Homo sapiens: one gene and its partners. The protein of the gene in region 1 interacts with the protein of each later gene in a biochemical or structural test. Each region holds a gene or a part of one and is shown on either strand. Other genes may lie near its edges. The genes, in order: PRDX6, SFTPA1, CASP10 and GSTP1.

Region 1 (7,777 bases):
TTAAACCATCCTAAACCAGATGATTTAGGCAGGATCCTAAACTAGTAGATAACTAAATCTAGCCTAGATGCCAAGTTGACCTTTCTGAAGTTTCCCTGAGCACAGAGAACAAGCAAAGACAAGGGCACCTCCTTCCTACTTACGGCTGCCACTCAACTCCCAAGGTTTCAAGAAGGAAAAAGATCTTCTTACAAAAAGGATGGAGGGCCCTATGGCAAGACTGGGAGGAAAGTTAGTATTTTTTTTTAAGATTGTGGAGGTGTGCACTATGTTCACTTTACTATGAAGGGCAAAAGGAAGAACATAGAGTATATCTTTTGAAGTAGATAATATCACTATGAGTAAAATCTAGGCCTTAGATTCTATGGAAAACGATCTATTTAATGGTTAGATGAGACTTAACAGAAGGTCTCCAGAAGTTGAGAAGAAATGGAACAGGGCGTTTCCTCCTCTATCGTTAAAAGGAGGATAAATTAGAAAAGTTAGGAGTTCTTTTTCCACTGTGAGTCCATAAAGACTGTTTTGCTGAATCATGCAAAAGGAACTGGTTTTAAGCCAGTTCACGTCCTTCCCTCCCTCAGAAGTGAAACTCCAGTTTACCTCATGGCTACAAATAGGATAAACTCCAAGAATGTCTTACCTTGGCCTTCCTTCCCCTCCAAGTCTTCCTACTGCTGCACTTAAGAGTAATTCAGTGACATGCTCCCATTTTCTTACCCATTTTCAAAAGACAAAAGGTTTCCTCCTTCAAGAGAATGGTTCCCACTTACTAAGCCCCAGAAGACCCCTGGAAAACACATATTTTGCTTAGTGAAGATGTACTATGAAGAAGCTGCTTCTACCACTTAAAGAAACAGCGATAAGGTAAACTCACCCAATGTAGCACCCAACCTCTTTAGTTGTTTACAATGATCAGGGGTAAGGTAGAGAAATACATTTTAATTTTTTCTTCTCAAAAATACCTGGATCAAAAATTGACAGTCTGATTTGGGATCATATACAGAATAGAAAATTGGAAAAATCAGGCAAAAATCCATGTGTTATAAACATATAAAAGGCTCAAACTTCTCTTCCCGGTAAGGTAGGGAATACTATACCTGATCCTAGGCAGACTTGTATATTAGTTAATAAATGCAGATATTTCTACCGTGTTCCTAACTATGGCTCCCTGATAAAGTACCACTTTTGATCAAATCTAGATGGATCTAGAGGCCAATAAACATTAACAAAACCCCAAAAAAGTATGGTTAGCTTAAAAAGTGACAGCATTTATAACTGTTGGCACAGTAAATACGTTTTATGCTAATATTTAATCTATACAAGCTAAGAGTTCTGGAAATAGTTTATGTTTCATGGGGATGGGGGATGAGGGCTGCAGGTAGAAATGGGAAGGAACACAACTCTAAAAATCCCAAGGATTGCTGGAGAAATATTACTACCTAGATCCTAAGTATAAGAATGGCCATAAGCTGTATTTCTAAAGTATTTTTCTGCATTCAAGGTTTGAATATTCCATTTCTCAACCTTTTTCTGGCCTAGTCCTATCTTTCACAAAGCTTAACTTTTCCCTATTCAGTGGCTGGAAAAGGGACTTAAGAGGTTATAAAGGGTTGGATAGGCATATGATGTGTAAGAATCTGTCCCTGGTTCTCTGCACAGCCCTGTCCAATCACTGATTAATTTCATAAGCCTGTCTCCCTGGATACTGTATATAAAAAGGATATAATCTGGGGAAGAACTGTTGTCAAGCCTTGGAGCCCCACAGTGTAGTGGGACCACTAGTACTCCAGAACCATAATATAACTAGACATGCCTGGAATGCTTCTGATGAAAACTAAGCAACTTCCAGTTTGCTGATTCAGGAGCTGTTAAAAAAAAAAAAGGGCAACACCGATTTACTACTCCTATCCATAATGGTAAAACTGCCAAGTCAGATCACAGGTCATCAATTTGGCTATCATCAGCAAGCTCATGTGCTAGAAGCAAGGTAGAAAGCGGAGGGGACAGTGAGGGGCAAGCCACTGGAAAACAAGAGAGTCTCAAAGTTGGGGAGTACACGTGTCCTGGAGCCTGGAACGGCCATCACTAGCAAGAATAGGCCACTCCAGCGGAACAGCGTCAGAAAGTCCTTCCCTCCAAGTGTTGCAAGTTCTGGAATCTCTGAAGGCACACCTACGCAGAGTGTTCTTGGCTCTTCCTAAAGCTGTTATCAAATCATATCTTGGCCATTGGAGGCGGCTCTGGACAAAAAGTCTTTCGGCCACCTACTTGGCAGCTAGTGGTTTTAAATTTCACATTTTGTGCCCAGAAGCCTGCAAATACCACTGCACCCTCAGATGATACGTTGGCCTTCCTGTAACCTATAGCCAGCAGCTGTGTCCTCCGACTTTGGCTTTAGACACCCATCCTCCCCAGGGAGCAAATTCCAGAACGGAGGGTGGGAGGGCGGTGCGACCCTGGGCACTAGTCCGGGGAAGTGATCGTCAATGCCGCCCCGCCCCTGCGCCCTCGGCCTGACCACGCTACCTGCACAGTTTACTAAGACGAGTTAAATGGACAACAAACCCTCCCGCGGGCGGTGAGTTTCCAGAACCCGCAGAACACAATTTTATCCTCCCCACCCCCCACCTTGGCGTGGCCTTGCCCAGCCACGCCGGAGGCGGGGAGGCCAGGAGGGATCGAGTGGCCCGCGCAGGGCAGGCCGAACGGGTGCCAGCTCCCAGCAGCGCAGCCGACGCTGAGCAGAGGCCACACGGCCTGGCGCGCGCCGGAACCAGTGCGGGGGAAGGCGAGGGCGGCGCAGGGGGCTGAGCGGCCGGGAGGACGGCAGGGAGAAGAAACAGGGAAGGCACCTCCGAGTCCGGCGCAACCGAGGCCAGGACAGGGCTACGCGGTGGCCACTTACGAGTCTCCCAGAAAGTCGTGGAAACGGATGCGGCCGACGGTGGTATTGGCCTCAAAGTTGGGAGCCACGTCCCCGAGAAGCAGACCTCCGGGCATGGCGACGGTGATGAGGGGGCGCCGCTGGGACAGCAAGCAACCGGTTGGTTCTGGCGAAGAAGCAGCCTGTCCCAGCGCGCGGAGGAATAAACGAAGGCGCGAGGGGCGGGGACTGGGGCGGCGGGGGCGGGGCCGCGGGAGGCCGGCCGCTGGGGGCCGGGCCGCGGGGGCTGGGCTGGGCGCGGGGCGGGGCGGGGCTGGGCGCGGGGCGGGGCTGGGCCGGGCCGGGCTGGGGCCGGGACGCGGCGCGAGCTGGACTACCGCGGTCGCTGTTGGTGGCGCCGCCGGGCCTGCGACTAGGTGGCATCCTTCAGACACTATAGGCCGTCTCTGCACACGTGATGCGGGGCTCGGTCACGTTGCCCCCTGGAAGCTTGAGGATGCGCCAGGTTTGACTCTGCAGGGCGTACGCGCTTTAGGGATGGAAGGAAGAGGAACGCGGCAGGAAGGCGAGCCCCAAGGTGGAGAATCGCCTGGGCGCGCAGGCTGCGGCGGCTTCGCACAGCCGCCCTGGGCGCTGCACGGGTCCGCGCGCACCCTGCTGCGCACCCACTCGCGGCCAGCTCCCTACAGAGGAGTGGAGTGACTGCTCGACTACCACCCCTCTTTTAGTGTGAGCGTCTGGAGTCCTGACCGCCCCAGCCAGCCCAGCTACGATGAACTGTCTAAGAGGATGTGGCAAGACCCAGAAGTATGGGTGACCTTATGTCAGAGGAAGTGGCTTTCTTATTGCAGCAAAAATTCCCGTACCAATGTCAGTGCTAGGGTAATGTAACTAAACTTTTATTTATTTTTATTCTGCCCTCCCCTTTCTGTTTGTTATGAACCATAAAATATTCAACACAATTATCTTGAAATCTAAATATAAAATTTAAAACATACTCTTTGAGACCTACTGTGTGCAGGTCAACTCTGTCACCCAGGGAGGTGGGCGGCTTAGATTCATTTATTTGCTATGAGCCAAGTACAAGGTAGATAAGATGCCTGTCCTCTTGGAGCTTTCCTTCTTGTGAAGGGAAACCGGTGACAGACAATAAGCACACAAACCAAAATATGTTAGACAGCAATCAGTCGTATTCAGAGAACTAAAATAGGGTTATGTGCCTAGAGGGTGACTGGGGGGCTGCTTTGGTTTGGGTGGTCTGGTCTGGGAAAGCCACCAGGATAATGTAGGTAAACTAGTCAGCTCACGGTAGGTGCTCTGGAAATGGTAGCTATCGTTTGGATGATGACACTGGCTCATGCAGTAACTCTTGCTTTGCCTGCTGTGTGCTGGACACTGTGCCAGGCCATACAGTGGAGAAACACAGTCCCTGCTGTTACAGGGAAGGCATATTTATATGCAATTATAATAAAATGTAGGGTAAATTCTGATGGGGGAAGGTGTAAATGATTGGAGTTCAGAGATGAGAAAAATCCTCTGGATGGGGCTGGCAGGTTTAAGGCAGGGGCATGGCAATGTTGAGAGTAGTGACTCACATACTGTGATTTGCGTTTTCATCACAGTGATGTGTTGGTGCGTGCATGCTAATCATATTTACCGAGTTCTTCAGTGACCCAGGACTTGCAGTAAGATTACTGGTAAAAATTTCTAGCCACTTCACAAAACCGTTTAAAGCTAATGTAATTTAATCTCTAATTTGGCTCCAAGTTTTAACAGCTCCTTGTTTTAACTCCCTTTGTAGGGAAGAAAGAGAATAGTTGGGAAAGAAGAGTAGTTTGGCCTAAGGCACTGTTAACAATATGTTGTGGAAATCAGCTAGAAAACACAATACTCTATAAATATGGAGAATGAATACAGAAACAGATTATTGATGTCTGTCAAAGGCATAATTATATTATTGTCTGTTGTAAATTAAGCAAATATAATAAAATACTCATTAGAATTTACAGTGCCAGAAGCTGTACACTGGCAATGCTTCTGCACTCTGTGAACTTGTTTGCTTTAGACTTTGGAGCATTTTAAATTGTCTTGAATTAGCTGTCCACTGAAGGGGGCCAGCCCCTCCACGCCTGTGGGTGTTTCTCGTCAGGTGGGATGAGAGACTGAGGAAAGAAATAAGACACAGAGATGAAGTATAGAGAAAGAACAGTGGGCCCGGGGGACGGCGCTTAGCATACGGAGGACCCGGCACTGGTCTCTGAGTTCCCTCAGTATTTACTGATCACTATCTCTACTATCTCGGTGAGGGGGATGTGGCAGGACTATAGGATAATGGTGGGGAGAGGGTCAGCAGGAAAACATGTGAGCAAAGGTCTCTGTGTCGTAAATAAGTTTAAGGAAAGGTTCTATGCCTCGATGTGCACATAGGCCAGATTTATGTTTGACTTTACACAAACATCTCAGTGCAGTAAAGAGCAGTATTGCCTCCAGCATGTCTCACCTCCAGCCATAAGGCGGTTTTTTCCATCTTAGTAAATAGAATGTACGTCGGGTTTTACACCGAGACATTCCATTCCCAGGGATGAGCAGGAGACAGATGCCGTCCTCTTATCTCAACTGCAAAGAGGCCTTCCTCTTTCACTAATCCTCCTCAGCACAGACCCTTTACTGGTGTCAGGCTGGGAGACGGTCAGGTCTTTACCTTCCCACGAGGCCATATCTCAGGCTGTCTCAGTGGGGAGAAACCTTGGACAATACCCAGGCTTTCTTGGGCAGAGGTCCCTGCGGCCTTCCGCAGTGCATTGTGTCCCTGGGTACTTGAGACTGGAAAATGGCGGTGACTTTTACCAAGCATACTGCCTGCAAACACATTTTTAACAAAGCACACCCTGCGTAGCCCTAAATCCATTAAACCTTGAGTCAACACAACACATGTTTCTGCCAGCACAGGGTTGGGGCTAGGGTTACAGATTAACATCATCTAAAGGCAGAAGAATTTTTCTTAGTTCAGAACAAAATGGAGTTTCTTATGTCTTCTTCTTTCTGCATAGACAACAGTAACAGTCTGATCTCTCTTTCTTTCGTCCACATCAGCATTTTGAAAACATGATTTTTCATAAAAATATCTGGATTTTTGTCTCCTGAAAGGTCAGAAGATCTAGCAACACAGCAACACCAGGCCCATGTTCCATCTGGCAAACAGTGGCTGCTGAGTAGCCTTTTAGAGGGCAATGTTCTCTGTTACTCAGAAGGTCCTCTGCCAGTTACTAACATTAGAGTAGAATTGGGAGGAAAAAGAAATAGTTCTTGCATTCTTATCTGTCAAAACTGTGCAAATGAAAGCTTAACTAAGGGCTGTATATTTCAAGAAAAAAATGATCATGTTTCTTTGTGAAAGTAGAGAATGTTCCATGAACTTAATATGCAAACAAAGTCAGAAGAACGCTGTTCTGCCTGGCCTTCGTAGGTAATTGAGTTTAACATCTGACTTATACCAAAGGTAGGTGCTCTGTGGACTGGGCCCCATTCCAGAGGGAAAATTTTAAAGCTATTTTCCTGAGGGTTAGTGAGATGTATAATGGGAAAGGAGGAGGGGAGGAAGGACAGAGGAGACATTCCAGGGAAAGACCGGAGTGTGGAAAAGGGAGAGCTTGACTAAGAAAGGATTTACTTTCCTTAGAGAGAGGGTGGAGGCTCTCCTATCAGAAAAAGTGTTTTCATACAGCTATAAGGGTCGGAGAGAACCTTGAAGTCCTTACAGTAATCTGAGGGACAGGAAAGAATGGATTTCAGGCATTTCCAGAGGGCTGTGACTCTGGGATGACTCACATCTTCTCTTCTGTCTTTACTGCTTTGACAGAAGAATAAAATGAACAGATTAGCAATGGGCATTTGGAAAAACAACAGTGCACCATGATGCCTGTCTCTCTCACTAGATTGTGAACTCCTAAAGGTTTGACTATATTTTATTAATGAATATTTGTGACCTGTTACACATAGTGGGCATGAGGACTACGTTGTACAAAGTATTAGAGAAACATTGGGTCGCCTTCCTGCAGCCACAACAGCAAAGTTTCTTGTTTGTCCACAGCTGGGAGTAAAAGAGCAAGATGTCTCTAGTTATACAGTCATGTGATACAACATTGGACCACATATACTACGGTGGTCTCATAAGATGATAATGGAGCTGAAAAATTCCTTTCGCATAGTGATGTCTTGAGGATCCTGACCCTGTGAAGCCCTAGGCTAATGTGTGCATTTATGTCTTTGTTTTTAAGTTTAAAAAGTTTCAAAAGACAATAACCTTTTAGAATTATAAAAAAGCTTATAGAATAAGAATATAAAAAAGAAAATACAGTATTTTGTATAGCTATACAATGTGTTTGTGTTTTAAGCTAAGTGTTATTACAGAAGAGTCAAAACATTAAAACAATTTTAAAGTTTATAAAGTAAAAAAGTTATAGTAAGGTAAGGTTAATTTGTTATTGAAGAAAGAAATTTTTACACATGAATTTAGTGTAGCCTAAGTGTACAGTGTTTATAAAGTCTACAGTACATTCATTCACCACTCACTCACTGTCTCACCCATGGCAACTTCCAGTCCTGCAAGCTATATTCATGGTAAATGCCCTATATAGGTGTACCATTTTTTATCCTTTTTTTTTTCATTTTTTTTTTTTAAGACAGGGCCTTGCTCTGTCACCCAGGCTGGAGTGCAGTGGTGTGATCATAGCTCACTGCAGCCTCAAGCTCCTGGGCTCAAGCAGTCCTCTCACTTCAGCCTCCTGAGTAGCTGGGACTACAGGCACATGCCACCATACCTGGGCAATTGTTTTATTTTTGGTAGAGACGGGGTCTTCCTAACCTGTGTTGCCCAGGCTGGTCTGAAATTCC
Region 2 (7,654 bases), on another chromosome or scaffold:
TCAGTCAGGCCTACATAGGCATATGTGTTGTACTTCTTCACGAAGCTTGCAATGGCCTCATTTTCCTCTGGATTCCTTGGGACAGCAATGCGGCCGCCTGCTCTGGCACATGCCTCCTGAATGGCATCAAAAGTGATGGACTGCCCATTGCTGGAGAAGACCTTCTCTCCTACTGTCATTATGGAGCCCTGCAGACTGAGGGCTGAGAGCAGAGGAGTCCGGGTCAGGCCACTGACCACTTTGTCTCTAAGCCACCTCCCTCACCTGGGGTCTCTGCTACCAGATTCTCCCCAGTCTCTCCATCTCTGCCTCTCTCTGTGTCTTCTCTTCCTCTTCCAATTGCAGTTTTCTAAATTCACTTTTAGACTCTCCTCCATTTATTCATTCACCTAAGTAACAATTACTTATTGCCAGAAATGGTGCAATTTCCTGGAATTCAGTGGAAAGCAAGGCAGGTGGAGAACTTGCTTTCCTATGAAATGGGGAGTGAATTGTGTCTGCTTCTGTCTCCTCTGGGCCATTCAAAGACATCAGAAAAGCAAGCGTCATTCCTTTCCCCAAGACCTGCATGTGCATGCCTATTTGTAATCTCTATGTTCTAGAAGCTGGTGCTGAGAATGAGGGGAATTTGTGGGAAACTCCTACCCCGTGAGGCCCAGGGGGTCCCCTTACCTCCCCTTGTCTGCAGGATTTGATGTCTAAAGTCGTGGAGTGTGGCTTGGAGCTCCTCATCTAGATGAGCTGGAAGCCCTGTGGAGAGTGCCCCACACAGAAGGAGGGGCAGGCCAGTGAAGACTCCCACTTGCTGCCACGCAGGTGTTTTGCCATCTGCAATCCTGGAACTCTGCCCTTTCATTGCTGTTAGGCGCCACCCAGACCCTAGGCTCAGAGGGTCCACAAGATTCCAGTGTGTCTCCACACCCCGTGGTCCCCTATTCTTTAGTGAAGCCTTGCCCCTGCTGAGACCCCCACCCCTTGTCCTCTTTCCTGCTCTGTCCCTCGAGGGGTTCTGTCTGCCCGCCTCTGTGGGGCAAGTCCCTCTCCCGCACCCTCCACCAAGGGCAAGCATGATGCTCTCTGCACTGCCCTGATGGACTTGCTTACCGCTCTGAGCTTCAAAGTTCCCCTCTGTCTGTGGGGCTCCTGATCACACCGTCTGTCTGGATGCCTCGTCCGCATTCACCCTTCAGACAGCCCCCAGGGCCTCCATCCCAGGACATGCCTCCCCTGCCTCCCAGTGCTGTCCCTCATCCCACACCTGACTCAGTGTGTCCCCATCGGTGGTCATGAGGCACGGAGGACTTCCCACACCTGCCTTTCCCTGAATTGTGACCACACTCCCCAGACACCTCAGCTTTCTCCCTCAAGCTTATCCTCTCTTACTTAGGTTGAGCCAAATGCCCTTGGGGAACCTGTAGGGTTTGTCTGATCCCCATCATCCCCGTGTAACTGACTTCAGGGTCGCTGTGCCCATGTTTCCACTGCCCACCTGCCCCACCCTGCTCACCTGGAGGGCCCCTCTCGCCAGGCTCCCCCTTCTCTCCACACTCTCCAGGGATACCAGGGGCTCCAGGCAGCCCATCATTTCCAGGAGGACATGGCATTTCTCCAGGTGGACCCATGGGGCCTGCAGAGAAAAGAGACATGGATGTGTAGGATCTGTCACCCACAACTGGTTGGAGCTAGTGAGACTCGATGCCCATTATCACCAGGGCTGGCTCAGCTATCACTCTATCACTCCGTGGGCACTATGAGGACAGACTCTCCAGGATGCGCCATCATAAGGGCCCCAGGAACCCACCAGCCCTGCAGACTGAAGTCCCACCCAGCTTACTATAGCCCCCAGCTCACTATGGCCCACAGCCTAGGGGCCTGGACAGATGGGCCTCCTGAAAAGGGGTCTGTGTCCCTCAGCTGAGGGTGGGGTCTGCAGCACAGTACCTGGAGGGCCAGGGTCTCCTTTGAGACCATCTCTCCCGTCCCTGCCTGGCAGGCCGTGGGATCCAGGAGTGCCGGGGATACCAGGGCTTCCAACACAAACGTCCTTCACTTCGCACACAGCACCAGAGGCTGCCATCAAGATGAGGTTGAGGGCCAGAGGGCACAGCCACATGGCTCTGGGTCCAGTCGCTGCTCCTGCAGGAGGGATGGCCGTGAGCCCATCTGCCACCTCTGCCAACATCTCCCCCACTGTGCTCTGTCAGGACTCAGGAAGCTGGGCAGAGCCCGAGAGGCAGGGCGGGCGAGACCAGAGTGCTGGGAAGACCCGAAGCTCCCGGGAAAATTCCCAGCATCACCTGGCACCTGGCATGGCCTCATGCTTCAGGCCTCCGGCTGGAGGTTGTGGGGTCTCCAGGCTGCTGAGGAGGAGGAAGAGTAAGGAGCTCTGGGGAGCCCGGGGACCTGGGCTCCAGTGCAGTCTCCTTTCTTTCAGTGCCTCACTATGTTACCCTGGGAAACTGGCTTCACCTCTCTGACTTCAGCTGAATCTTCCGTGCTCTGCAGAAAACCTGCCCTGTCCCTCCCAGGCTATTAGTCAGGTCACTCACTCACTGACTCACACCATCTGTCCTCATCCCTGCTGTGTTACTTTCTTTTCAGGCTCCAAGAAATCAGCGACCTGAGAATGAAAAAAGATGAACGGGGCCCGCAGCCTGGCCCCCCTCAAGGTGGTCAGTCATGGAGTCCCCTTTCTTTTTGGGGTCTGTTCTCTCACTGCCCCTCCTGTAGGCCCTGCTGAACCCTGTAGGGATGGATCTGGCCAAAGAAAATAACAAACATGAGGATCTTTGCAGGTCACCTATGTTGACTGTGCTGTGAAACACCTCCCAGTGGAAAATGGGGAGTTGCCCTCCTTCCCAGCCTGGGCTTTGGTCAGGCCTGTGGCTGCTGGGCTGGTCCTCTCTGCCTGCGATCCTCAAGCTGGAGAACACCTAGGGGATGGGGCTAAACTCACCCACACACAGAGCCTCCAGCTGCTTGGGTCTCTGCCTCCAAGTCAGAGGGTAAGGTAGACGCAGCATTTATAGATGTGGGGGCTGCCAGGCTTCCTCCTCACCCCTGAGAGCCCTACCACAAAACCTGTGCTCCAGGCAGGAAATGGGCATAGTGTTTACACAGCATGTTTCCCCAAGAGCACTCAGGCTGGAGGATCTCAAAGGACCCTTGAGGGGAGCACAGAACCTGCGAAAGAGGAACTCCAGGTCTGTAAGAAGAGAAATCCCCCCCTTGGCTGAGGTCACCCACCCTGCCCCTAGCAAGCTCCTTAGCAGTGAAAGCCGAGAGCCCTTACACAGGCACTAAGGAAGCCCCACTGGGTTCCTGGTTTAGATTCAGACAATGAAGAACTCACTGCTCCAGCTGAGATTGGTCAGGTTGATCCAGGCCAACTTGTCTGTCCTGCGACCTGGCTCAGCCATGAGCCCCAGGCCCCCCCACCAGCCTGTGTCCCTGGAGCCTGCAGCTGAGTTGGTGGGCACATGGGCAGAGTGGCAGGCAAATATGCTGCACGTTCCACTTCCCTCTGCCCTAGCAGGTTCAGCTGGAGGAGTCAGGGCAGCACCTGGAAGGTCACGGGAGAGCTGCAGTTTCTGTCTTTGGTAGAACATCACTTTGGGTGATGTCTGGCAACCTGCAATGGTGATTATGCTAAGTGTCCCAGTGATATATGAAGCCCTAGTTGTTGAGGTCCTGGTTTGAGCATCTGGATTAGGAGGGAATCTCCAACTGTGGAGGTGGTAATGATGGGAACCAAGACAGGAAAATCTCCCCTGGCTTATTTGGAATTGGTTTGAAAAATCCCAAACCATTGAGGAGTCTGGAGCTCTTCCAGGGAGCGGAAGCTCAGCCAATGGACCCCACTCCCAGAAGCAGGAAGCTGGGCAGTGCCAATTTGTAGCATGGAGTCTTTCAGCTGCCCCAGTGCTGTCTGCCACACCATGTGGTGGGTGCTGGGCCAGGTGTGGAATGGGGGAGTCAGGCCAGTGCAGGGTGGGGGCAGGTGGGGCGCAGCTCCAGCAACTTGGCTGTGGGGAGGCAGGGCTGTTTTGCAGGTGATGAGCAGGAACAGAGGCCAACTCAGATGTGCAGGGCCTTGTGGTTGGCAGGGCAGGGCGTGACTTTAGGGGAAAGGCACACCTGAGTTTTCACCCAGAGCTGTCACTTATTACCCATGTGGACTCAGTCAGGTTATGTAACATTTTGAGGCTCAGTTTCCTTTTTGTTTTTATTATCTTGAAACATCAAATTTACAGAAGAATTGCAGGCACGGTACAAATATGTTTCCCTGAACCTATGAAAGTAGGTTGTCAGCATGAAACCCCAACACCCCAATACTTTAATGTGTTTTTCATGCAAAGGCATTTTCGCATTATAACCATAATCAAGAAATTAACATGGATATAATAACTCCAAATAGCCTTCAGGCCCTATGCAAAATGTACCCAATGCCCCAATAGTGTCCTTTATAGCAAAGGATCCATTTCTGAGCCATGTGCCGTATTCGGTTGTCACGCTTCTCCAGGGTCCTGAAACCCACAAAGGCCCTCTGTCTTCCCTTCACCTTCATGACCTGAACACAGTGTGAAGATCACAGGAGAGTTACTGTGTAGAATGCCCCTCACTTTTTTTTTTTTTTTTTTAATGTATTGGCTCATGATTAGATTCAGGTTCTGTAACTTCAGCAGAAATGCGATAGACATCCTGCTGCGCTCTTCTCCCATTCTACCGGGCGGCATGTGACTTTAGTTTGCCCCAAGATTGATGATGTTCTTGTTGATCATTGAATTAAGGTGGTGGGTGTCACGCTTCACTACCATAAATACATTCTTTTTCTGGTTTTAATCAGTGACTATGTTATGAGGACGCACTTTGGGGCTATTGTAAAGATCCCATTCCTCATCACACTGTCTCTGTTGCCCATTGATTGATTTGTAGCAATGTGGACTCGTTCGTGAGGCCTACCACTGACCACCAGGGGGTGCCGAGCACCCACCTGCGGGCTGCAGGGGGCACTACGTGTGTTTGATGTTGAAACAGTTACAGTTTGCCAGCACATGGCACCAGTGAATCTAAAGAATGTCGTTAAGAAGATGGTTCTCCCAACACAAATTTGTCACTCTTAGCTCTAAGAATTGCTGTAGTTCCTGCTGAGTTCCGAGTGCCCACACCAGGCCACTCAGCTGTGTCCACAGCCTCCTCCCCCTGCTTAGGCTCCACTGCCCCCGCCGGTCCAGTCCGCTCTCCTTCAGTATCTTTCTCGTTCTCCTCGGGGCCTCACCCTCCACGTTGGGCTTCTTCCCTCTGCAGGGATATCCTCTTCACACTGCCAGTCCTTGGGCGCCCATGCCAAGCCACCTCAGAGTCCACAGTCTTGCTTTCTCTCTCCATCACACCCTGAGTTTTCACTAAAGAAGGAAGGGAATGAGGCATGCCTCTATTCTCTGTCTTTCAGAATAGGCAACCATCTCTCTTCACCACTCCCAGCTTATACCCCTCTGGAGTGTATCCAGAACCAATGGGACTGCTTTGATCCTCTTAATCTGGAAGAAAAATGCCTCATAGCCCTCTGCACAAAGGTTTGGCCAAATTATGAAGGACCGGGTGGACCTCAGGAATGAACCTTTCATTTCGATAGTATCCGGTGATCAGGCCTTTTCTGTATACATGAAGACAAATGGTCTGAGGTCCCATATGTGCAGGTTTTCTATACCTTGCAAGGCAATCCAGACCTTTGCTGACAGTGTAGGATTGATACAGCCCTCCTGCTTGCCATCTCAGGGAGGACTGCAAGGGGCAAGCCTAGGAAACTAAAGATATGAATCCCAGAGGCACCCCAAGCAGAGAAGCCAGCCCCCTCCAGCTCTTCCCCTCTGGGTCTACCTCGACCTCCCTATTCAGCTTCAGCCTCTCACTTGCCCCCTCCTAAAAATCCTCACCCTAGACAAGCCCCAACCTCACTCTTGCCCCTTCAACCAATGCCTGGTGAATTTGGGCCCAGTAAGGTCCAGTTCCCCTCCTCCCTACAGGACTTAAAGTGAATTAAGGGGGATCTTGGGAACTTTTCAGATGACCCCGACAGATATATAGAGGCTTTCCAGAATTTCACCCAAATATTTGATCTCTCCTGGAGAGACATTATGTTGCTTTTGAACCAGACCTTGACAGACACTGAGAAGCAGGCTGCTCTGCAAGCAGCAGAGAGATTTGGGGATGAGCTTAGTATCACATATAGTGTCAGGGAAGGGGGCAAACATTATCCAACTGGGAGAGAAGCAGTATCAATGGATTACCCTAAATAGGATTCCAATGACAAGATGGAAGCCTGGAAGAGGAGGCACTTTCAGGTGTGCATAATGGAGGGCTTATGTAAGACCAGGACCAAGCCTCTCAATTATACTAAATCATCCATGATTGACCAGGGATTTGATGAAAATCCCACTGCCTTCCTGGAAAGGCCAAGGGAGGCCTTAGTAAAGCACACCTGTCTATCCCCTGATTCAGCTGAGGGACAACCAATCCTAAAGCATAAATTTACTACTCAGGCAGCCCCTGATATCAGGAGGAAGCTACAAAACAGGCTCTGGGACAAGAGAGTACTTTAGAGAACCTTCTGAAAGTACCCACCTTGGTTTTTTATAATAGAGATAGGTAGGCACAAGAGAGAGAGGAAATACAGGAAAGAGACAGAGACTTTAATGGCCAGCAGACAAGCCCACAAACCCCAGAATTCCCAGGGTGCACCTGTCAATTGCTACAGATGTGGCAAATCAGGGCATTTCAAGAATTTCTCAGACAGCATGAGGAAGCTACCTCAACCCTGTCCAATCTGCAGTGGGGACCACTGGAGGGTGGACTGTTCCTGGGCATGCTGGTCACCAGGTCCAGAGCCAGTCTTCCAAATGGTCCAGCAGCAGGACTGACAGGTCCCAGGGCTCCTCTCCTGGCTCCTGTAGTCCAGACCACCATTATCATCAAGGTGCCCTGGGTAATCATGGAAATCGAAGAGAGGAAAGTGGACCTCCTTTTGGACACTGGGACTGGTCTCTCAGTTCTCCTCTTGAATCCAGGCCCCCTCTCCTCTCTTAGCATGACTGTGAGGGACATCTCAGGAAGGTCTTTAACCCGATATTTTTTCCAACCCCTTAGCTGTACCTGGGGTTGTTCACCAAAGCTTTTCTAATTATGCCTGAAAGCCCAACTCCTCTGTTGGGTAGGGATATTCCGGCCCATGTGGGGACCATCATTCTGATGGCCCCTAGGGAAACTCTTTGTCTCATCCTAGTAGAGACCAATATTAACCCAGAAGTTTGGGCAACTCTAGGGAAGATTGTCAGAGCCACAACTACCATACCAGTCTGGGTCCATCTTAAGGATCCCACCTCCTTTCCTAACCAGAAACAATATCCCCTGAAACTAGAGGTTAGGAAAGGACTAGAAGCCATCATTGATAACTTGAAGATGGAGGGCCCACTCAAACCCTGCAATAGCCCTTGTAATACCCCAATATTGGGGGTACAAAAACCCAACTAGAAATGGAGGCTAGTTCAGAACCACCTCCTTGTTAATGAGGCTGTGGTTCCAATACATTCAATGATTCCCAATCCGTATACCCTGCTAGCTCAAATACCTGAGGGAACTAAATGGTTCCTGGACC
Region 3 (7,104 bases), on another chromosome or scaffold:
CCAGAACGCCTCAATGCAGGTACATATCTCTTATTTTACACACTAGTGGGATCCCTCCCCCTACTTATTACACTTATTTATGCCCAAAATATCCTAGGCTCACTGAGCATGATAATAATAACATTTAATATCAAGAACTACCAATCTCCTGATCCAACAATCTCATGTGATTGGCATGTATAATGGCCTTCATAGTAAAAATACCCCTATACTGACTTCACCTATGACTTCCCAAAGCCCATGTATAAGCACCTAAGGCTGGCTCAATAGTACTTGCAGCAGTGCTCCTAAAATTGGGCGGCTACACAAAATGCGACTTACCCTCATCCTCAGCCCTCTGACAGAACATATAGCCTATCCTTTCCTGATATTATCCTTATGAGGCATATTATGACAAGCTCCATCTGTCTACGACAAACTGATCTAAAGTCACTTATTGCACATTCCTCCGTAAGCCACATGGTACTTGTTACTGTGGCTATCCTCATTCAAACCCCCTGAAGTTTTACCAGTGCAATTATCCTCATAATTCCCCATGGACTTACTTCGTCCCTACTATTCTGCCTAGCAAATTCAAACTACAAGTGAATCCACAGCTGAATCATATTACTCTCTCGAGGACGTCAAACATTACTTCCACTAGTAACCTTTTGATGACTTACAGCAAATCTCACCAACCTTGCCCTACCCCCCACTATTAATCTAGTAGGAGAACTCCTTGTAACAACGGCTTCATTCTCCTGATCAAACACTACCATCATGCTTATAGGACTTAATATATTAATCACAGCCCTTTATTCCCTCTATATACTTGTCACAACACAACAAGGAACACTAACATACTATATTAACAGCATTAAACCTTCCTTTACACGAGAAAACATACTAATACTCATACACCTTTCACCAATTCTCTTACTATCTCTAAATCCTAAAATTATTATAGGACTTATACCTTGTAAATATAGTTTAATCAAAATGTTAGATTGTGGTCTAATAATAGAAGTCCGCAACTTCTTATTTACCGATAAAGTTTGCAAGAACTGCTAACTCATGCCTCCATGCCTAACAACATAGTTTTCTCAACTTTTAGAGGATGAGAGTTATCCATTGGTCTTAGGAACCAAAAATATTGGTGCAACTCCAAATAAAAGTAATAATCATGTATTTTTCCATTACTATAATAACCTTAATCTCCTTAACCTTACCAATTATTATTACCTTTATCAACCCTCACAAAAAGAACTCATATCCATACTATGTAAAAATAGCTGTCGCATGCACTTTCACCATTAGCCTCATTCCCACAACATTTATGTGTACAGACCAAGAAACCATCATCTCAAACTGATATTGAATAACAATCCAAACCCTAAAACTCTCATTAAGCTTCAAACTAGACTAATTCTCCATAATGTTTATTCTAGTAGCACTATTTATCACTTGATCTATTATAGAATTCTCAATATGATATATGAAGGCAGATCTGAACATTAATCAGTTTTTCAAATACCTACTTATTTTCCTCACCACAATATTAATTCTAGTTACTGCCAACAACATTTTCCAACTCTTTATCAGATGAGAGGGTGTAGGAATTATATCTTTTCTACTAATTGGCTGATGACATGGCCAAGCAGATGCTAACACAGCAGCCCTCCAAGCAATTCTATACAATCGCATTGGTGACATTGGCTTTATTTTAGCTATAGCATGATTCCTCTCATCATCCAATACATGAGAGCCTCAACAAATACTTATCCTTAACCCTACCCCCAACCTTCTTCCATTAATTGGTTTTCTCTTAGCAGCAGCAGGAAAATCAGCCCAACTTGGCCTCCACCCCTGACTTCCTTCCGCCTTGGAAGGCCCAACCCCAGTCTCAGCCCTACTTCACTCTAGCACTATAGTTGTGGTGGGAGTTTTCCTACTTACCCGCTTCCACCCCTCAACATCACTAATCATCACGGAAATGCAAATCAAAACCACAGTGACAGCTGGGCGCCGTGGCTCACGCCTGTAATACCAGCACTTTGGGAGGCTGAGGTGGGTGGATCACTTGAGATCAGGAGTTCCAGACCAGCCTGGCCAACGTGGTAAAACCCTGTCTCTACTAAAAATACAAAAATTAGCCAGGCGTGGTGGCACATGCCTGTGATCCCAGCTACTCGGGAGACTGAGGCAGAAGAATTGCTTGAACCTAGGAGGCAGAGGCTGCAGTGAGCTGAGATTGCGCCACTGCACTCCAGCCTGACAGAGCAAGATGTTGTCTAAAAAAAAATAAAAATAAAAATAAAAAACCCACAGTGAGATGCTACTTCACTCAAGTTAGAATGGCTATTATCGAGGAAACAAAAGAAAACACATATTGGCAAAGATCTGGAGAAAAGGGAACACTTACACACTGTTGGTGGTATTGAAAATTAGTACAGCCATTATGGAAAATAGTATGCCAGTTCCTCATAAAATGAAAAATAAAAATACTATATGATCCAGCAATCCCCATACTAAGTATATAAACAAAGAAAATGCAATCAATATGTCAGAGAGATATCTGCACTCCCAGTTTACTGCAGCATTATTTACAATAGCCAAGATATGGAATCAACCTAAGGGTCCAAAAATGGATATATGGATAAAGAAAATGTGATATTTATACGTGACAGAATACCATTCAGCCATAAAAAAAGAAAATCCTGACATGTCTGACAACATGAATGAGCCCAGAGTGAAATAAGCAAGACACAGAAAAAATCTGCTTGTTCTCACTCATGTGGAATCTTTGTTTAAAAAGTTGATGTCATAGAAGCAGTGATTAGAACAGCAATTACAAAGATGAGAGAGAGAAGGAGGGAAGGGAAGATGAGAGGTTAGTCAATGGGTACAAAGTTACAATTAGATAGGAGAAATAACCTCTGGTGTTCTGCTGCACAGTGGGGTGACTATGGTTAACAGTAAGGCATTCTGAGCTGGGCACTGTGGTTTGAGCATATAATCCTAGCTACTTACAAGGCTAAGGCAGGAAGATTGCTTGAGCCTAGGAGTTCAAGGCCAGCCTCGGCAACATGGTGAGATCCCATATTTAAATCAATCGATCAATCAGTAAGGTGTTGTATATTACAAAATAGCTACAAGAGAGGCTTTTAGAGGTTCTCACCACAAAGAAATGATAAATGCATGAGGTGATGGATACACTAACTACCCTGATTTGATCATTATACAACACATATATGTATTGAAACATCAAATTATAACCCTGAAATATGTAGTTATGAAGTATCAATTAAAAATAACAGAAATTTCTGGAGTACCAAAAAAAACCACACATTGCTTAATCATGCATGTATACTGTCTCCTTTTAATATTGTTGAATTTTTAAAATAATAATAATTTAAATATTCACTTATATTTTTATTATCTGTCCTTCCTTCACTGGACTTTTAGCTCCCTGGAGAGCAGATTTTGTCTCTCTTGTACACAGTTGCACCCCCTGTCCCCAGTTCGGTACCCAGTACAGTAAGCACATAGTACGCTCTCAATAAATATTGCCTTGTTCCTGAAGCCATAGACATTAGCCTCTGATGTCTGTGATGAGAATGGAGGGGCTGGTAAAGAAGAGAGAAAAGCAAAGTTGACTCAAGGTTCCAATCCTGAATTCCCAGAAGAGCACTATGGCCATTCCTTCAAATGGAAATTCAGGAGTAGGAGCTCCTGGAGAGAGCTGGGAAGATGAGCTCAGAAACATGCATGCTGAATGTGAGGTCCAAGGGCTAAACAGAGGTAGGATATCTAGCGGGATGTTAATGAGACAGGCTCAAGCAAGTCATTCATTGGCCCAGCAAATGTTTAACAAGCTCACAATATATCAGGTCAGGGGCTGAGGATATAAAGTTGAATGAAACAGGGTCTCTGCCCCCAGGAATTCAGAGATGAGTGGGCCAGAGATGGCAACTTTGGAGACGTTTTCATGGAGGAGCCCATGGCCTCTAGGTATGGCTAAAGGTGCCAAGAGGACAGCATGTGGCAGAGACAGAAGGGAAGCTGTCAGAGCAGTGGCAAATAGAAGTCCAAAGATAGCACATAGGTGCTCAGGACGTAAGAGTGAGTGATAAATAAACGAACAAATAAAAGGCCCCCATGCTTTTGTTCATGCTATTCCCTCTGCCCAGCACATCTTTCACCTGATTCTTTACCTAACATCTATTTGTCATTTCTAGAAGCCTCCTCTGATCCTTCAAATCTGGGCAAGGTACTCATTCTGCATGTTCCCATAACACCTATACTTCACAATGTGCACTTACCAGCTGGGGATGCCCTTCCCCGTCTATTTGTTTGTCTATCCCTCTAGCTTGTAAGCAACCTGAGGGCAAGGACTCTGTCTTTTTTTAACTCTGTATCTTCCTTTCCAGGTCCAGGCTGGTACTCAATACAAGGTTGCTGGATGGATGGATGGATGGACAGATGGATGGATGGATAGATGAATGGGTGGATAGATGGATGGATAGATGAATGGGTGGATAGATGGATAAATAGATAAACAGGAGGGTAGGCAGATGGTTGAACAGGTACATGGATAGAACAACGTAGAACTCTCACCCTTACCAAAGGTGTTGAATGAGAGTAAAATAAAAAATAAATAAAACTAATTAATTACAAATGGAAGAAAAAAAAGAGCTCTCACCTTGGGACCAATTTCTTCAGATGATTACACAGAGACTGAATATACCAGCTGCCTTCCTCCACATGCCGAAAGGATACATAGCCTGGGACAGTGGCCAGACCAAGTAGGAAGTCAGCCTCGGCAGGAATACTGTCCTGCAGGGAAGTGGGTGCCTGCTCAGGGTTCAGAGCATCTGCTTCGATGGATACGGAAGGCTGTATCTCTTCACCTTGGCAGGCCTGGATGAAAAAGAGTTTAGGTTTTTCAGCCAGTCTAGGGCACTGCAGGGCTGTGAAGTGAGACATGATCTCCCGAATGGGAATGAGGGCCTCATCCGAAGAGTAGACAGCTCCAAATCTCCCATGGGTCAGAATACAGAACACGAAGCAGTCCCCGTCGGCATGGGCTGGATTGCACTTCTGCTTCTGCAGGACCATCTCCATTTCCACTTTCGTCACATTATTGTGTATATGCACTGTGAACCCAAGCCACTGGAACACATGACTCAGGATCTCTGTTTAAAAACAAAAAAAAAAAAAAAAGAGAGAGAGAGAGAGAAAGGGGAAATAATAAAATGATGCAAAACAAAATGAAGAACTGAAACAAGGCCGGGCACAGTGGCTCACACCTATAATCTCAGCACTTTGGAAGGCCGAAGCAGGCGGATCACTTGAGGTCAGGAGTTTGAGAACAGTCTGGCCAGATGGCAAAACCCCATCTCTACTGAAAATACAAAAAATAGCCAGGTGTGGTGGCTCACGCCTGTAATCCCTGCTACTCGGGAGGCTGAGGCACGAGAATGGCTTGAGCCTGGGAGGCAGAGGTTGCAGTGAGCTGGGACTGCACCACTGCACTCCAGCCTGGGCAACAGAGCAAGACTCTGTCTCAAAGAAAAAAAAAACTGAAACAATGCTAATAGTTACAAAATTTGCACAGCAAATAGCCTAAAGCTTTGGATTATTTTTATTTTCATAACCATAAAATCTTACAATGAATCTCCTATCACGTAATACCCAGTGTTGTCACAACAGTCCTGAGAATCGGCAGTGGCCAGTGTTTCATCCTGTTTCACAGTTGAAGAAGCCAAGGTCTCTTGACTCTCCCATGATCACACACCTAGTTAGTGGTGGAGCTGGAGCTCACGCCCAAGTTGTCTCGTGCCAATCCAGCAGGCTCTCCCCCAGTACATGCTCTCCTCTATTCAGAATTGTGAATAGTCAAAGATTCTTGCCACTCTTTAGCAGACTGATGACTCCCCAGGGATATATAAGAGGCTCAGAAACATGATATCATCCTTACACGTATATGGAAGATAAAAGTCACAGAAAGAAAATGTGAAAATAAAAAATAATTTTAAGATCCCCAATTTGCATTTGATAAACTGTTCCAGACTTTCTTACCAGCATCTTTATGGGTTCCTTGTCTGTCCTTCAGGGAGGTAAAGCTGTGGTTGTTGACAATGACACAGAGGCCTCTGTGGTTCCGATTCATCCTGTACACAGCTGCCCTCTTGAAGAATAGATAGAGCCACTTAGTAGGAATCCTTATCTTAGGGCCTTAAATGTTTCTAACCAACCACTCCAATGGATCCACTGTGAGGAAGAGCAGGATGTATCTCCCCATGCCAGTTGTTTAAACCATGTTTTTGTTGTTGTTGTTATTTTGTTGTTGCTGTTGTTGTTGTTTTGAGATGGAGTCTCACTCTTGTTGCCCAGGCTGGAGTGAGTGACGCGATCTCGGCTCACTGCAACCTCTGCCTCCCGGATTCAAGGGATCCACCTGCCTCAGGTGCCCACCAACACCCCCAGATAATTTTTTTTTTTTTTTGAGACAGCATCTCGCTCTGTCACCCAGGCTGGAGTGCAATGGCGTGATCTCAGCTCACTGCAACCTCCACCTCCTGGGTTCAAGCGAGTCTTCTGCCTCAGCCTCCCGAGTAGCTGGGACTACAGGCGCCCGCCACCATGCCCAGGTAATTTTTGTATTTTTAGTAGAGACGGGGTTTCACTATGTTGGCCAGGATGGTCTTGATCTCTTGACCTTGTGATCCGCCCACCTCGTCCTCCCAAAGTGCTGGGATTACAGGCATGAGCCACCGCGCCCAGCCGATAATTTTTGTATTTTTGGTTGAGGTAGAGTTTCACCATGTTGGCCAGGCTGGTCTTGAACTCCTGACCTCAAGTGATTCGCCCACCTCAGCCTCCCAAAGTGCTAGGATTACAGGCATGAGCCACCATGCCTGTCCAAAACCATGTTTTTATACTCTAGTCTAAACCCCTTGGGGTATTTATGCCACATTATTTCTGAAGTCACATATTGAAAAACTGGGGATTCTGACTACTCTGCAACTCACTTTTACTGCACAATTGTGATCTGAATAAAATTTCAAAGATTCTTTTTTAAGTCCTAGAGCCCAGGACAAAGGATAAATCTCATTTGCACTA
Region 4 (7,292 bases), on another chromosome or scaffold:
CTCTCTCTTTTTTTTTCTTCCTCTTCTAGTTTGTGAGGTTCAGTAAACACAGCCAGGCTGAGGGCTCCAGGAAGCCACTGACTGTGCTGGAGGAGCTGTTTTCTAGTCCTCTGCTCTGCCCTCCCACCGACCTCGAGGCTGAGAACCCCTAAGCCCCGTCCCAGGAAACACAGTGCTCATAGTAGCTCTCTTAGAAATTTTATTGGTCCTGGAGAAAGGAAGGCAAACTCTGCCTCCCGCTCAGAGTCCCCCCAACCCTCACTGTTTCCCGTTGCCATTGATGGGGAGGTTCACGTACTCAGGGGAGGCCAGGAAGGCCTTGAGCTTGGGCCGGGCACTGAGGCGCCCCACATATGCTGAGAGCAGGGGGAACGCATCCAGGCAGCCAGGGGCTAGGACCTCATGGATCAGCAGCAAGTCCAGCAGGTTGTAGTCAGCGAAGGAGATCTGCAGGGCAGGGGGGCCAGGGACTCAGCCAGCGGGAGCAGGCTGGAGGAATTGGGGGCAGAGGGCCTAAGCCCATCCCCTAGGTCTGCTCTGCTTTGCTAAACAAATGGCTCACACCTGTGTCCATCTGGAAGCAGAGGGTGGCGAGGAAGGAACAGCATGGGGCCAGATGCTCACCTGGTCTCCCACAATGAAGGTCTTGCCTCCCTGGTTCTGGGACAGCAGGGTCTCAAAAGGCTTCAGTTGCCCGGGCAGTGCCTTCACATAGTCATCCTTGCCCGCCTCCTGCCAGACACCACCATGTATCATCCTACTCTCATCCCTCCCAGCCCCTGAGACACCCCCGTCTGCCCCAGGCCAGACACCAGAGTCCCAGATTCTCCTCTGCTTGCTCCCCACAACCAGGCTAGTACCAAATCCTGTCCACTTCAGCTGCCAACTCATCTCTATTCCATTCTGCCTGTCCATCCTTGCTGGGTTCTCTCACCAGATGATTGCAAAAGCTTTAGAGCTGGCTTCTCTGGAGGATCCTTCTAGACCTCACATTCAGACACAGCCCTGTTCAGACTTCTCAATGGCCCCCATTGCCCTTAGGAGACTCCAAACCAGTGGGTTCAAGGCCTTCGGGACCTGGGCCTACTGCCCGCCCATCTCTATCTCCTTACCCACCCGACACAAATGCAAGCGTACACACACACACGCACACACATGCACACGCACGCGCACACACGCTGCCTCTGCTGAACTGGTCCCAGGTCCCCAAATGTGCTCTGTGTCTGCATATTTTCCTCAGCTAAAAGTGCCAGCACCTCCATCCAGAAACTGGCGACAAATCCTCCTCCACCTCTGGCTACTCCAGGAAGCCCTCGCCACCCCAGGAGATCAGAAACCACCAGTTGCTGGAGGTCTCTGTCCTTGCACTCGCCCCCATGACCCGTTACTTGGCTGGTTGATGTCCCAGGCAATAAGGGTGCAGGTTGTGTCTTGTCCCAGGCCCCTGGGCCCCTGGCCCAGAGCTGACCCAGCCCCTGCACCCTGACCCAAGAAGGGGTCAGCCCAAGCCACCTGAGGGGTAAGGGGGGTGAGGGCACAAGAAGCCCCTTTCTTTGTTCAGCCCCCAGTGCCCAACCCTGGTGCAGATGCTCACATAGTTGGTGTAGATGAGGGAGATGTATTTGCAGCGGAGGTCCTCCACGCCGTCATTCACCATGTCCACCAGGGCTGCCTCCTGCTGGTCCTTCCCATAGAGCCCTGGGGTTGGGTGGAGGGGAGCAGGCCGCGTGACTGGGCGCCTGATCAACACACAGTCACTGGGGATGGGCCAACCAGGGGGCTGTCTGTGAGCCCCAGCCTGGGAGGAGGGGAAGAGGATGTGCGTGGAAGGATGAGAGACTGCCACACAGCAGGTGCTCAGAGCTCACCTGACACCTGGGAGGCAGCCTGGCACAGGGCAAGGATTGCAGGCACCCAGGCTTGACCTTGGGCAAACTACGTAACCTCAGTGGGTCTCAGTTTCCTCCACTCCAGAGGGCTGCGGGGCAGCTGATTTAAACAAAAGGGCTCCGGGGGCAGAGGCTTGCCCATGCCTGCCCTGGACTTGGAGGTTCAAGACTCACCAAGGGTGCGGCCCAGGTGACGCAGGATGGTATTGGACTGGTACAGGGTGAGGTCTCCGTCCTGGAACTTGGGGAGCTGCCCGTATAGCTGTTGGGGGAGGCATGGCTCAGGGAGGGGCACTGAGCTTGGGCGTCCCCCGATCCTAGTCACAGCCCCCTAAGGCCCAGCACCCCCTCCCCTTGCCCGGGCATGGTCACTTACGCAGGAGGCTTTGAGTGAGCCCTCCTGCCACGTCTCCACGGTCACCACCTCCTCCTTCCAGCTCTGGCCCTGATCTGCCAGCAGCATGCGCAGGGCCGCGCAGCGGCCTGCGGGGAGGGAGAAGTACGAGATGTGGGGACCGGGCCGACTCCGCCTCGCAGCAACCCGGGGAGGGGTCAGGAGTGCAGGGAGGGAACAGGGAAACAGGTTCCTCCGAAGATTTCACACAACACTGGGGCGGGGAGCAGGCATGGCGGGAGAGGCGGGGAACAGGAAGGAGGCCCGGGGTAAAAGCCACACGACGGAGGGATAAGGGGGTTCGGATCTCTCCGGGTGGGCGAGGGGCTGTGGGCTGCAGCCCCAGCCCCTGCCTCCCTTCCCTGCCAGACACATGCTCCTACCTCGAACTGGGAAATAGACCACGGTGTAGGGCGGCACTGCAGCGAACAAAGAAAAGTTTGCTGGAGCCCGGGGGAGGATGCCAAGGCGCGGTGAGCGCAGTCTGCCCCCCCTCCCCGCCCCCGGGGTCCCATCCCTCCCCGAGGCGCTCCGGGCCCCCTGAAAGCCGCTAACGGCACTGGGGACGTCCTGGGTCCCCTAGGCCCCCGTCCCGGGTCTCGAGGTGGGCGAGGAGCCCTGCCGGGAGCCCGGGCCTGATGCTGCGGGTTGGCCCCATGCTGGGAGCTCTGAGCCCCATCCCCGGGGACGCGGGCCGCGCGTACTCACTGGTGGCGAAGACTGCGGCGGCGAAACTCCAGCGAAGGCCTCGCGGCCTCCGAGCCTTATAAGGGTGGTCCCGCCCCGCTCCGCCCCAGTGCTGAGTCACGGCGCCGGCCGCTCTTCTGGAGGGTCCCGCGGACTCCCGCCGGCCCCAGCCCCGGCGGCCGCTGCACCCCGGGCGTCGGCCGCAGAGGGGCGCCCTGGAGTCCCCGGAGTCGCCGCGCAGCTGGCCGGGGAAGCCTTTCCCTCTTTCCCAGGTCCCCAGCGGGGCCTAGGGAGTAAACAGACAGCAGGAAGAGGACCGCAGCGAAGTGTGCGCAGCGAACTGGCGCGCCGGGACATCGCGGGGGGAAATTCCCTAAGACCGCTGCGATCCCGGAGCTTGCACACCCGCTTCACAGGGCAGGGGAGAGGGGTGGAGGCCGCTTAGAGGAAAGGAAATTGCTTTATTTTATTTTATTTTATTTTATTTTTTTATTTTATTTTATTTTATTTTATTTTATTTTATTTTATTTTATTTTATTTTATTTTGTGTTATTTTATTTTATTTTATGACGTAGTCTCACGCTGTGGCCCAGGCTGGAGTGCAGTGGCGCGATCTCGGCGGCTCACTGCAACCTCCGCCTCTCGGGTTCAAGCAATTCTGCTTCAGCCTCCCGAGTAGGTGGAATTATAGGTGCGTGCCACATCTGGCTGATTTTTGTATTTTTAGTAGAGACGGGGTTTCACCATGTTGGCCGGGCTGGTCTCGAACTCCTGACCTTAGGTGATCTGCACGCCTCGGCTTCCCAAAGTGCTGGGATTACAGGCGTGAGCCACCACGCCTGGCCGTCCAACTTTTATTTGAAGTTCTGGGGTACATGTAGAGGATGTGCAGGTTTGTTACATAGGTGTGTGCGCCATGATGGTTTGCTGTACAGATCATCCCATCACCCAGGTATTAAGCCCAGTATCCCTTAGCTATTCTTCCTGGTACTCTCCCTCCCCAGCACCCCGCTCAACAGGCACCAGTGTGTGTTGATCGCCGCCATGTGACCATGTGTTCTCATTGTTCAGCTCCCACTTATAAGTGAGACCATGCGGTCTCGCTGGTTTTCTGTTCCTGTGTGAGTTTGCTGAGGCTAACGGCTTCCAGCTCCACCCATGTCCCTGCAAAGGACATGATCACGTTCCTTTTAGTGGCTGTGCCTTAGGCTATTTTCTTTGGCTTTGCTGCCTACTTTCTGTTGATTTGCAGATCTCCATTTATTCTAGATATTGATCTCTTGTTGGCTTTAGACATGACAGACAGCTTCTCCTATTCCATCAACTGTCAAGTTTGTCCAAGGAGTCTTTCATGAAACAAAACTCGTTAATTTAAGTGTAATCAAATTCAGCAAGGGATTTTTGTGGTGGGGAAGAGGTTGGTGTTTATGTTGTATCTTTAAAACTTCATTTAATGCAGCCATTAAAAAGAACTAGATCATGTCTTTTGTGGGAACATGGATGGAGCTAGAGGCTATTATCCTTAGCAAACTAATGCAGGAACAGAAATCCAAATACTGGATGTTCTCACTTGTAAGTGGGAGCTAAATGATGAGAACTTATAACACAAACAAGGAAACAACAGACACTGTGGTTGACTCCAGGGTGCAGGATGGGAGGAAGGAGAGGAGCAGAAAAGAGAACTATTGGGTACTCGGCATAATACCTGGGTGATGAAATATTCTGTACAACAAACACCGAAGACACGAGTTTACTTATGTAACAAACCTTCACATGTACCCCCAAAACAGAAATAAAAGTTAAAAAACAAAGAAATTTCATTTAAAAGTCTTTTTTAAGAGACTTATTATCGGGGGAAATTCAGCCCCCAATATTTCACGTGGGTCCTTTCCTATTTTCCCTAAGTGTCGGCTGGCCTGAGAAATAAAGGGAAAGAGTACAAAAGAGAGACATTTTAAAGCCGGGTGTCCAGGGGAGACATCACATGTCCGCAGGTTCCGTGATGCCCCCTGAGCCGTAAAACCAGCGAGTTTTTATTAGCAATTTTCAAAGAGGAGGGAGTGCACGAACAGGGTGTGGGTCACAGAGATCACATACTTCAAGGGCGACAAAAGATCACAGGGCAGAAGGTCACGGCGAAACTAGAATCACTAATGAACTTCCAGGTCCCACTGTGCACGCACTGTCAGGGTTCAAGAGCAGAGAACCGGTCTGACTAGAATTTGCCAGGCTGGAATTTCCTAATCCTATCAAGTCTGGGGGTGCTGCAGGAGACTAGGGCGTGTTTCATCCCTTTCTACTTCTGAATAAAGGCAGGCACTCTCAGGGAGGCCATTTCAGTGGCCCGGCCCTGGGAATGCATTCTTTTCTCAGGGCTGTTAATTATTAATATTCCTTACTGGGGAAAGAATTCAGCGATATTTCTCTTACCTGTTTGCGGTAATAAGAGAAGTATGGCTCTGTCCTGCCCAGCCCACAGGCAGCCAGACTTTAAGGTTATCTCCCTTGTTCCCTGAAAATTGCTGTTATCCTGTTCTTAAGATGCCCAGATTTCACATTGCTCAAACACACAACAATTGTCCTCTACAAACAATTTGTGCAGTTAACGCAGTCATCACAGGGTCCTAAGGCGACATACATCCTCAGTTTACGAAGATGACAGGATTAAGAGATTAAAGACAGGCATAGGAAATCACAAGAGTATTGATTGGGGAAGTGATAAATGTCCATGAAATCTTCACAATTTATGTTCTTCTGCCATGGCTTCAGCCAGTCCCTCCGTTCGGGGTGCCTGACTTCCCACAACATGTATGTTGCCGCAGCTGGTCTGGAACTCTTGGCCCCAAGTGATCCTCCTGCCTTACTTAGCCTCTCGAATAGCTGGGACTACAGGCATGTGCCACCACACCCAGCTAATTTTTGTATTTTTTGTAGAGATGGGGTTTCACCATGTTGCCCAGGCTGTCCTTTTTTTTTTTTTTTTTTTTTTAAATTTTCACCAATGGACTGAGGTCACAAGGAAGCTTTTTAAATTTTTGTCACCTTGGGTTTTCTTTAATTTCACTCTAATTGTCTAGCTTTGGTGCTCTTCCTGGCTTGCCAAGCTGTCTCTCTGGTTTGGCCTCTTGGCCCTTCGGTCTGAGGTTGGTCATCTTTCTTCAGTTTTGAGAAATGTATCTCCATTGTTTCTTCTGAGATGCCCTCTTCTCCGTCTTCTTCCTCTTCCTCCTCCTCCTCCTCTTCTTCTTCTTCTTTCTTCCTTGCACTATCTGGAAAATGGCCCTTCTAATCTATCCTCCTATCACTTTACTGCCTTTTTTTTTTTTTAGACAGGCTGTCACTCTACTGCCCAGGCTGGAGTGCACTGGCACCATCTCAGCTCACTGCAATCTCTGCTTCCTGGTTCAAGTGATTCTCCTGCCTCAGCCTCCTGAGTAGCTGGGATCACAGGTGCCTGCCACCACACCTGGCTAATTTTTGTATTTTTAGTAGAGACAGGGTTTCATCATGTTGGCCAGGCTGGTCTCAAACTCCTGACCTCAAGTGATCCACCTGCCTCGGGCTCCCAAAGTGCTGGGATTACAGGCGTGAGCCACTGCGCCTGGCCACTTCGATGTCATTTGTGTTTCTTCTGGTTTGTCTTTCCTGGGAGAGAGTTCCCCAGCTGATCTCATCACTCACCTCTTCATCCATGAGTCGCATACCTCGTATGATTCATCCCATCTGTTGTTGGCTTTCTTCGATTATTGTTTTTATATCTACTCTTTCTTTTTGTTGCTTTTTGTAACTTCCTATTGCCAGTGCCTTCTCTCATGTCCTCATGATTTCTCTTGTGTGTATTCTCCGTCTGTGTGCTGCACTCATTCAGCGTCAGGGGATGTTCCTGTCCCCTGAGATGTCTCCCCTGGAACCAGTGAGCTTGTGCCCTTCCCTTGGTGGCACTGGTCATTCTCTCGGGTAGTATGCCAGCCTGTGGTTTCAAAGCAAAGGAAGGAGATAAGCACCACCAAACCACAGCCAACCTCTCCCCTTTGCTATCGCTCTTCAAACAGAGCTTGAGGTCAGAGTTTCCCCTTCCGAACCTTGGGAAGCAGCGCTGGGGAAGGTGGCTCCCCATGTTCTAATGTGCTGGTGCTGGGTGTTTCCAGGGGAAGTGTGGGAGGGAGAAAGCCCGCCCCATTCAGTCCCACTGTTCTCCCCAGTGCCTCACCCAGCAGAGGGTAGCAGAGGCTAACTTCGGTTTAGCCTGCACCAGGGTCAGTGTTCAGCAGTGACATCCCCTCAACAACTCCAGAGAGTACTAATAAAGGAACTGAATGCAA

Evidence for each region.
Region 2: the proteins of PRDX6 (region 1) and SFTPA1 form a complex in vitro, tested with the Homo sapiens proteins (one study listed by BioGRID).
Region 3: the proteins of PRDX6 (region 1) and CASP10 form a complex in vitro, tested with the Homo sapiens proteins (one study listed by BioGRID).
Region 4: the proteins of PRDX6 (region 1) and GSTP1 form a complex in vitro, tested with the Homo sapiens proteins (one study listed by BioGRID).

The regions. Positions count from the first base shown.
Region 1 is NC_000001.11:173,472,621-173,480,397, reverse strand, and holds the start of PRDX6 (peroxiredoxin-6), read right to left. Parts: upstream 3,064-7,777; 5' UTR 3,001-3,063; coding exon 2,906-3,000; intron 1-2,905. UniProt on the Homo sapiens protein: Thiol-specific peroxidase that catalyzes the reduction of hydrogen peroxide and organic hydroperoxides to water and alcohols, respectively. Can reduce H(2)O(2) and short chain organic, fatty acid, and phospholipid hydroperoxides.
Region 2 is NC_000010.11:79,606,285-79,613,938, reverse strand, and holds the start of SFTPA1 (pulmonary surfactant-associated protein A1 isoform 1 precursor), read right to left. Parts: upstream 3,001-7,654; 5' UTR 2,957-3,000; exon of another isoform or gene 2,801-2,956; intron 2,655-2,800; exon of another isoform or gene 2,621-2,654; 5' UTR 2,550-2,620; intron 2,361-2,549; exon of another isoform or gene 2,320-2,360; coding exon of another isoform or gene 2,298-2,319; intron 2,137-2,297; coding exon of another isoform or gene 2,114-2,136; coding exon 1,942-2,113; intron 1,628-1,941; coding exon 1,508-1,627; intron 751-1,507; coding exon 673-750; intron 203-672; coding exon 1-202. UniProt on the Homo sapiens protein: In presence of calcium ions, it binds to surfactant phospholipids and contributes to lower the surface tension at the air-liquid interface in the alveoli of the mammalian lung and is essential for normal respiration.
Region 3 is NC_000002.12:201,207,140-201,214,243, reverse strand, and holds part of CASP10 (caspase-10 isoform 1 preproprotein), read right to left. Parts: intron 6,170-7,104; coding exon 6,061-6,169; intron 5,955-6,060; exon of another isoform or gene 5,777-5,954; intron 5,175-5,776; coding exon 4,682-5,174; intron 1-4,681. UniProt on the Homo sapiens protein: Involved in the activation cascade of caspases responsible for apoptosis execution. Recruited to both Fas- and TNFR-1 receptors in a FADD dependent manner. May participate in the granzyme B apoptotic pathways.
Region 4 is NC_000011.10:67,579,544-67,586,835, reverse strand, and holds GSTP1 (glutathione S-transferase P), read right to left. Parts: upstream 3,025-7,292; 5' UTR 2,993-3,024; coding exon 2,992-2,992; intron 2,703-2,991; coding exon 2,667-2,702; intron 2,373-2,666; coding exon 2,266-2,372; intron 2,152-2,265; coding exon 2,064-2,151; intron 1,699-2,063; coding exon 1,595-1,698; intron 733-1,594; coding exon 625-732; intron 448-624; coding exon 259-447; 3' UTR 183-258; downstream 1-182. UniProt on the Homo sapiens protein: Conjugation of reduced glutathione to a wide number of exogenous and endogenous hydrophobic electrophiles. Involved in the formation of glutathione conjugates of both prostaglandin A2 (PGA2) and prostaglandin J2 (PGJ2).